Homo sapiens: one gene and its partner. The protein of the gene in region 1 interacts with the protein of each later gene in a pairwise test. Each region holds a gene or a part of one and is shown on either strand. Other genes may lie near its edges.

What was found.
Region 2: the proteins of RARG (region 1) and RHPN2 interact in a two-hybrid assay, tested with the Homo sapiens proteins (one large-scale study listed by BioGRID and IntAct).

The regions. Positions count from the first base shown.
Region 1 is NC_000012.12:53,222,210-53,225,709, reverse strand, and holds part of RARG (retinoic acid receptor gamma), read left to right. Parts: intron 1-3,500.
Region 2 is NC_000019.10:32,998,889-33,002,388, reverse strand, and holds part of RHPN2 (rhophilin-2), read left to right. Parts: coding exon 1-142; intron 143-2,683; coding exon 2,684-2,803; intron 2,804-3,500. UniProt on the Homo sapiens protein: Binds specifically to GTP-Rho. May function in a Rho pathway to limit stress fiber formation and/or increase the turnover of F-actin structures in the absence of high levels of RhoA activity.

The sequences.
Region 1 (3,500 bases):
AGCTGGTTAAGAGAAGGCTTCAACTGGGGCCAAGAGAAGGTGATTGAAGGGCGGGGGAAAGAGCAATTTCAGAGACAGAGTTGGAGAGAAAAAGACAAAAAGATAAACGCACATCCTTCATGGCTCCACGAGCGCAGAGACAGAGGTAGAAGAGAAGGCGCCCTGCTTCCAGGAGGGGGCACGCAGAGGGTTGTGTGTCTGTATGTGAAAGGGGTGACTAGGCTGGGCTGGCAGCTCCACTGGAAAGAGTGTGTTCATCGGAGAAGGGGTGAGTGTGTGGTGCCTCCAGACTTGATGCAGTTGTGTGTGCCCAGCATCTCCCTGGGCCTCTGCTCATGTACAGAATTCCAGTGTGTGCAACAAAGAGTCAGTGTGAGGAGTGAGGAGGGATTTTGTAGTGCTGCTGACGCTGTGGCTGGCGTTTGGTGAAGCCTGCTGGTGGCATGTCTGTAGTCCAACAGGGGTTATTTGAGTGGCATGTAGGTGAACAAGACAGCACAAAGTACCCTTTTTGGAAACTACAGCTGGGCTTCCCCAGACTTCATTTTCACCCCATGAATCTGTCCTAGGGACCTGGGGAAGTGGGAAGGAACCACCCTCCCCACATGAATGTACTTCTGGCAGAGAACCCTACAACTCAGCCTCTTGGGACTTGATTTTCTCAGGTTCTGGGAGAGGCAAGTAAAGGAGATGGAGTGGAGAGGGAGAGGAGAGAGAATGGTAGTGGGGATAATGCTAGAGCTAGTACCCAGTCCCCAGTGACGTCCCCCTTGCGCCCCTGTGCCATGGACACACTGAGATCAAGGTCAGGGTTCAAAGTGAGATTAAGGTAGGGAAGTGGTCAGGCCGGGCTCCATCTTCGAAGGCCATGCTGAAGGAGGGGGCTGAAAGGAGAAATCCAAGGGAGGAGCCAGAGCCAGGGCAGGTAGCTGGGGAGGGTGCGGCTAGCCTGGAAGGACAGGCCTGGGCAGGGAAGTGGCAGGAGGAGGGAGGAGGGGAAGGCTTGGGGGTGGGTTGCTATGCGGCTTTAATGGGGGTGGGGCATGCAGCACCTAGTGGTAGCAGAGAGGAAGACATAGGGGAGACGAAGAGATCCAGGAGTCTGGGAAACCTTCCAGAGTGGGAGAGTAGCAGAAGGATGAGAGAGTGTCCTCTCTCATTTCTCCGACCTGCTGTCCCTTTTTGGCTGGGAGCATCTAGTGGAGAGGGTTTAGAGGCTTAAATCTGATGCCAAAGGCATACTCACATTGAGTTTGTGCATCTCATCACCCTCTCCCTTATTCTATGGATGACACACACACATTCTCTCTCACACATAGACTAAGAGAGGTGGCCCTTGAAGAGGTCTGGCACTTCTCCCTGGGGCTGGCTCTTGGATCTTATTGCTGGGTCCCTGGCACCTTGGGGACATCCTTGTTGAGAAGTGAAGTCTTGCTCTACTTCCTGGGGCTGTCTCGGGGTCTGAAGGGGGGTGAGACAGGCATCTCAGAACTGTCTGGTGGTGGAGGGGAGGCTCAGGGAGCACGTGCTGCTGAGGCAAGCACAGGCCTGTGCTCATGGAAAGCAGAGGGGTGTGTGTACGTGTGTGTGCGTGCGTGTGTGTTCATGCATGTGCATGAAACCTCAGGTGTCTGTGTCCCTATGTATCTCTATGTTTGTGAATCTTAGTGTGTTCTAGATTTGCTTTCTATAGGGAACAGAGTGTGATGAAAGAGAAGGGAAGCCTTGCCGTCCTCCCACCCCTGAGCAGATAGCTGTGGTCCTGATGACCTAGCCCAATTTGTCCTCTGAACCTGGTGATGCTGCCCTGGCCATGGGGCCACTGTCCCTGGGGCAAGGAGCCCAGATTTCACCACACTAAGTCACCACACATGGAGAAACTGAGGACAGGTTGGCACAGAGAAAGTCTTGCTTAAAAGAAACTGAAAAAGAGAGACTCACAGACAAGACAAGGGACAGCTACCCAGGCCCAAAGGTGCAGACACAGAGAAGCCAGGCACTGGGAGAAGCAAGGAGAACAAGCAGGCGGGTAAGGGCAGTGAGGCCTCCTCCAGGAAAAAACCCCAGTCGACTGCCTCTTTTCCCCTCCCCTCCCCGGTCTCTCCTCCTCCGGCACAGGCTCCAGCTCCAGGCCGACACAAACGGGGCTTTGATTGCAACAGGAAACCTCTTGGGCGGGGGGGGGGCGGGGGGAGCCGGGCAAGCCGCCGCCGCCAGGGCCCAGGCTGCACCCCCCTCTCCTGGCCCCCTACCCGGTCCCAGCCCCCATCCTGCCCAACGCGCCTCACATCCCTGCTTTGGGCCCCACTCTCATTCACACCTCGCTATTCTTCTGCTCTTCTGCTGCCCCCTCCTCCAGAGACCCCCCTCCCATTGCCCTTCAGGTGGGACTCCTACCTCAGGACTTACCCTTCTGGCAGGGCCTGCTTTACTTTGAAATGCCCCCTTTTCAGCTTTTCGAGGGAAGGTTTTAGAAAAAAGGGAGAATTTAGCGTGAGGAATTCAGAGCCAGTTATCCTCAAGCCCCATCCAGAAGGTGGCAAGGAGGGAAAGGCAGGGTGCATGAGGAGTTAGCTGTCCCTGCCCTGCCTCGTCCTGGCCAAACTCATCCTTGCCAGGGTGGCAGGGACTCTAAGGGGTGACCCCGAAAGAATCTGAGTGCTAATGGCTTTGTTAGTTGGGAAGGGGTACTCTCCTCTTTGCCTCTAGGGCTATGCCTTTGTGGGGCTCTAGCTGGGAGGGGGGTATGCCCTGGTGGTGGGGATCATAGGGAAGGGGGTGAGTCAGGCAGCAGCCCCCCTTCATACTCCCACCAGGATGGTGGAGAACATCTGGTTCCCATGAAATGCTAGAAGGCTAATGGGTCTAATTGCTGCAATAAGGGCTGGGGAAACTTTGGGGAAAAGAGGGGGCACTAGATCCCCCACCCTCTTACCTTCTCCCCAAGGCTGTACTAAGTCTGTCTAGAATGGGGGGGTCAGGGTTGATGGGGAGGGCGGGCCTGACACCGTAATGCCTGGTCCTAAGGACCCCCTCCATGCAATGCCTGGGATGCACACACAGATGGGGTGATGAGTGGGGTGCATCTGGTGAAGAGAAACGGGGGCTATTGAGGACTCATGGCTTCCTGGAGCCCTCCCCCAACTCCTCCTGTGCCCTCCTCCCAACCCCCCTCCCTGTGGCCTGGCCACTTCTGGTTCTAATTACCAACCAGGCAGGCCTGACTTAATTGGGACCTTTCAGATTTCTGAGGGGGAAGGGGGGTACTGACAGCTTGAAGTTGACTAATCAAGGCTCTTTCCCTCTTGTTTTCGGGGTACTCCCTATTTTGCACTTAACTGTTTTTGTTGTTGTTTGCTGCTGGTCAGATTCTGATTCAGAAAGTTCTTTCTTTCTCTCTCTCTCTCTCTCTTTCTTTCTCCTCCTTTCTCTTTCTTCCTTTTTCTTTCTTCTTTCTTTCTCTTTCTTTTCTTTCTCTCTCTTTCTTTCTTTTTTTTGTG
Region 2 (3,500 bases), on another chromosome or scaffold:
CAACAGCTACACGCAGCCATGAGCCAGGCGCCGGTGAAAGAGAACATCCCCTACTCCTGGGCCAGCTTAGCCTGCGTGAAGGCCCACCACTACGCGGCCCTGGCCCACTACTTCACTGCCATCCTCCTCATCGACCACCAGGGTAAGGCCTGGGGGGTTCGGGAGTTTGGCGAGGGCTGTGGTCCAGCTGCCCCAGGGGCGATTCTGAGCTGAGTGAGAGCTAACTGCCTTCCCTGGAGATGCTCACAGGCTGAAGGCAGAGGATGGGAGTGACCCATGACTGAGGCAGCTGCCGCACAGGCCATGGTGGGGTTAGGGGTTATAAGCTTCTTTAGAGGGAGGAAGAAGAGGCACCTTTAATTCTGCCTGGGTGCAAGAGGATGAATTTTCACCTGGAATCTAGAATCTAAGGGAAGGCCAAAAATGCTGGCATCAAGATAAGTAACATTTTAAGGTAATATTTTAAAAGAATCAAAATTAATGCAGGCCAGGTGCTGTGGCTCATGCCTGTAATCTCAGCACTTTGGGAGGCCAAGGCAGGCAGATCATTTGAGGTCAGGAGTTTGAGACCAGCCTGGCCAACATGGTGAAACCCTGTCTCTACTAAAAATACAAAAATTAGCAGGGCATGGCACGTGCCTCTAATCCTAGCTACTCGGGTGACTGAGGCAGGAGAATGGCTTGAGCCAGGGAGGTGGAGGTTGCAGTGAGCCGAGATTGTGCCACTGCACTCCAGCCTGGGTGACAGAGCAAGACTCCATCTCAAAAAAACTAATAATAATAAAATAAAAATTAATGCAAAAAAAATCTGTGATGATCGGAATTTTATTTTATTTTATTATTTTATTTATTTTATTTTATTGTTAGAGATGGGGCTGGAGTGCAGTGGTATGATCATGGCTCACTGCCTTCTTGAACTCCTGGGCTCAAGCGATCCTCCCAATTCAGCCTCCCAAATAGCTGGGAATACAGGCACATGCCACTACACCAGTTAATTAAAAAAAATTTTTTTTTTATAGAGATGGAGTCTCACTATGTTGCCTAAGTTGGTTTCAAACTCTTGGCCTCAAGCAGTTGTCCTGCCTTGGCCTCCCCAAAGTGTTGGGATTACAGGCATGAGCCATGGTGCCTGGCCAGGGATTTTTGATCTAATGAGTACTAATCCAGGCAGCCTCCCAAGGAATTAAAAAGACAGCCTCTGGAGCCAGACTTCCTGGGTTCATATCTCAGCTCTTCCATGAATGAGCTGTTTTACCTTGGGCAAGTTACTTAGCTGTCCTCTGCCTCAATTTTCTCATCTGTAAAATGGGTATATGGAGAGAACCTGCCTCACAGGCTGTCATGAAAACGAAAACGAAGGGCCTGTACGCAAAGCTCAATAATGCTTTATATACTGTAGGTTCTCTGAAAGTGTGAGCCGCCACTCCTAGTACTATATAGTCTATTAGGTGAGACAAGATGTGAAAACAAATAGAAATACCATATAGTGCCTCGGTGATTGCTGTAGAGACACAAATGCAGCAGCAGGTGGACTCCATGGTACAGTCATGGATGGCTTCTTAGAGGCAGTGACATTTGAGTTCAACTTTTCCATCTGCACAGGAGGGAAGGGTCAGCCTAGAGGGAGTAAAGTGTCTGAGCACAGAACAGAGGCGGAGGGTGCTGGGGAAGTGGAGAGTGGTTTTGTGAGGTTTGAGAGCAGGATGCGCGCCACGAAGGGTGTGGTTGAAGCAGGAAGGGGCTCTGCTGCAGGTGTGCAGGCCCGCAGAGGGGTGCAGGCCGGGCATGACAGGGTCTGGGCTATGCCAGGAGGTTCTGTGTGGTGGGTGAGTTGGAGGAGGTAGCGTGTGGGGGCTCAGGGTCAAATTACAAACCTTGCCGGGTGTGGTGGCTCACGCCTATAATCCCAGCACTTTGGGAGGCCGAAATCGGTGTGGATCACGAGGTCAGGACCAGCCTGGCCAAGATGCTGAAACCCCATCTCTACTAAAAATACAAAAATTAGCCGGGCATGGTGGCATGTGCCTGTAATCCCAGCTACTCGGGAGGCTGAGGCAGGAGAATCGCTTGAACCCGGGAGGTGGAGGTTGCAGTGAGCCAAGATCACACCACTGCACCCAAGCCTGGGTGACAGAGCGAAACTCCATCTCAAAAAAAAAAAAAAAAATTATGAACCTCTGGAGTGTGACTGGTCCCAGTGAGCAAGAGCTTTGGGGTAGCCAGGCATAGTGGCTCACACATTTGATCCCAGCACTTTGGGAGGCTAAGGCAGGAGGATCGTTTGAACCCAGGGGTTTGAGACCAGCCTGGGCAATGTAGCAAGACCTTGTCTTTACAAAAAAATTTAAAAATTAGCCTGGCATGTGGTGGTGCATGTCTGTAGTCCTAACTACTCAGGAGGTGAGGTGGGAGGATCACTTGAGCCCAGGAGTTCAAGGCGGCAGTGAACTATGATTGTGCCATTGCACTCCAGCCTGGTAACAGAGTGAGACCGTCTCAAAGAAAAGAAAACCTTGAGGGTTAGACGGCCTGGGGTGTGTCCGGGGGCAGAAAGGAGACCCATGATCCCAAATGCCTTGTGAAACTGCAGAAAAAAGGAAGCTGGAGACATGGTAGAGAAATCTCTACGTGGGTCTGTGGCCAGGTCCATGAGAGGGGATTTAACCTGTGGTTCTCTTTGCAGTGAAGCCAGGCACGGATCTGGACCACCAGGAGAAGTGCCTGTCCCAGCTCTACGACCACATGCCAGAGGGGCTGACACCCTTGGCCACACTGAAGAATGATCAGCAGCGCCGACAGCTGGGTGCGTGTCCCCCTGCACCCAGATGTGGGCCCCACTTGGTGCCCAGCTGGTCCTGCTCACAGCCAGCCACAGAGAGGTCCCTGAAGAGGGCCCGGGAGAGGGGGGTGTTCCGAGTCATCGTGGCCACTTTGGGTTCAGAAGTCATGAGGCGCGGTCCTGAGCCTCAGAGGGCTTCCCAGGCTGTGTTCTCATGGGTTCCATAGCACCCAGGCCTCCCACTGTGGAGCCAGGACTTTAACCATCTCCCTTGGGGTCCACAGGGTGGCATGTGTCACGCTAACAGGGAAGGAGACGTTTGTTGATTTCCTTATGCATGGCTGAATTACCAAGAACACCTAATGACTGGTAATGCAGTGTCCTGGTTTGGTCTCTGCCATGTCTCAGTGTGAATATCTCTTCCCATGTGCAGACCTCACCTCCACCACCCTAACCTGCCCCTCTGCGCACCACCCATGCACACATACGCAGCTTCTCCGTCTCAGTGATGGCAACTCCCACCCCTCTAGGTGCTCAGGCCAGAAACCTTGGACTCACTCTCCACGCTTCTTTTCTTTCCTCCTCTTTCCCATCCCCTCCCCTCTGCTCCCCTCCCCTCTCCTCCCCTCTGTTCCCCTCCCTTCCCCTCCTCTCCTGTTCTCTCCTCTCCTCTTCCCTCCCCTGTTACCCTCCGCTCCCCTTCTCTCTCCTCCTCTCTTCT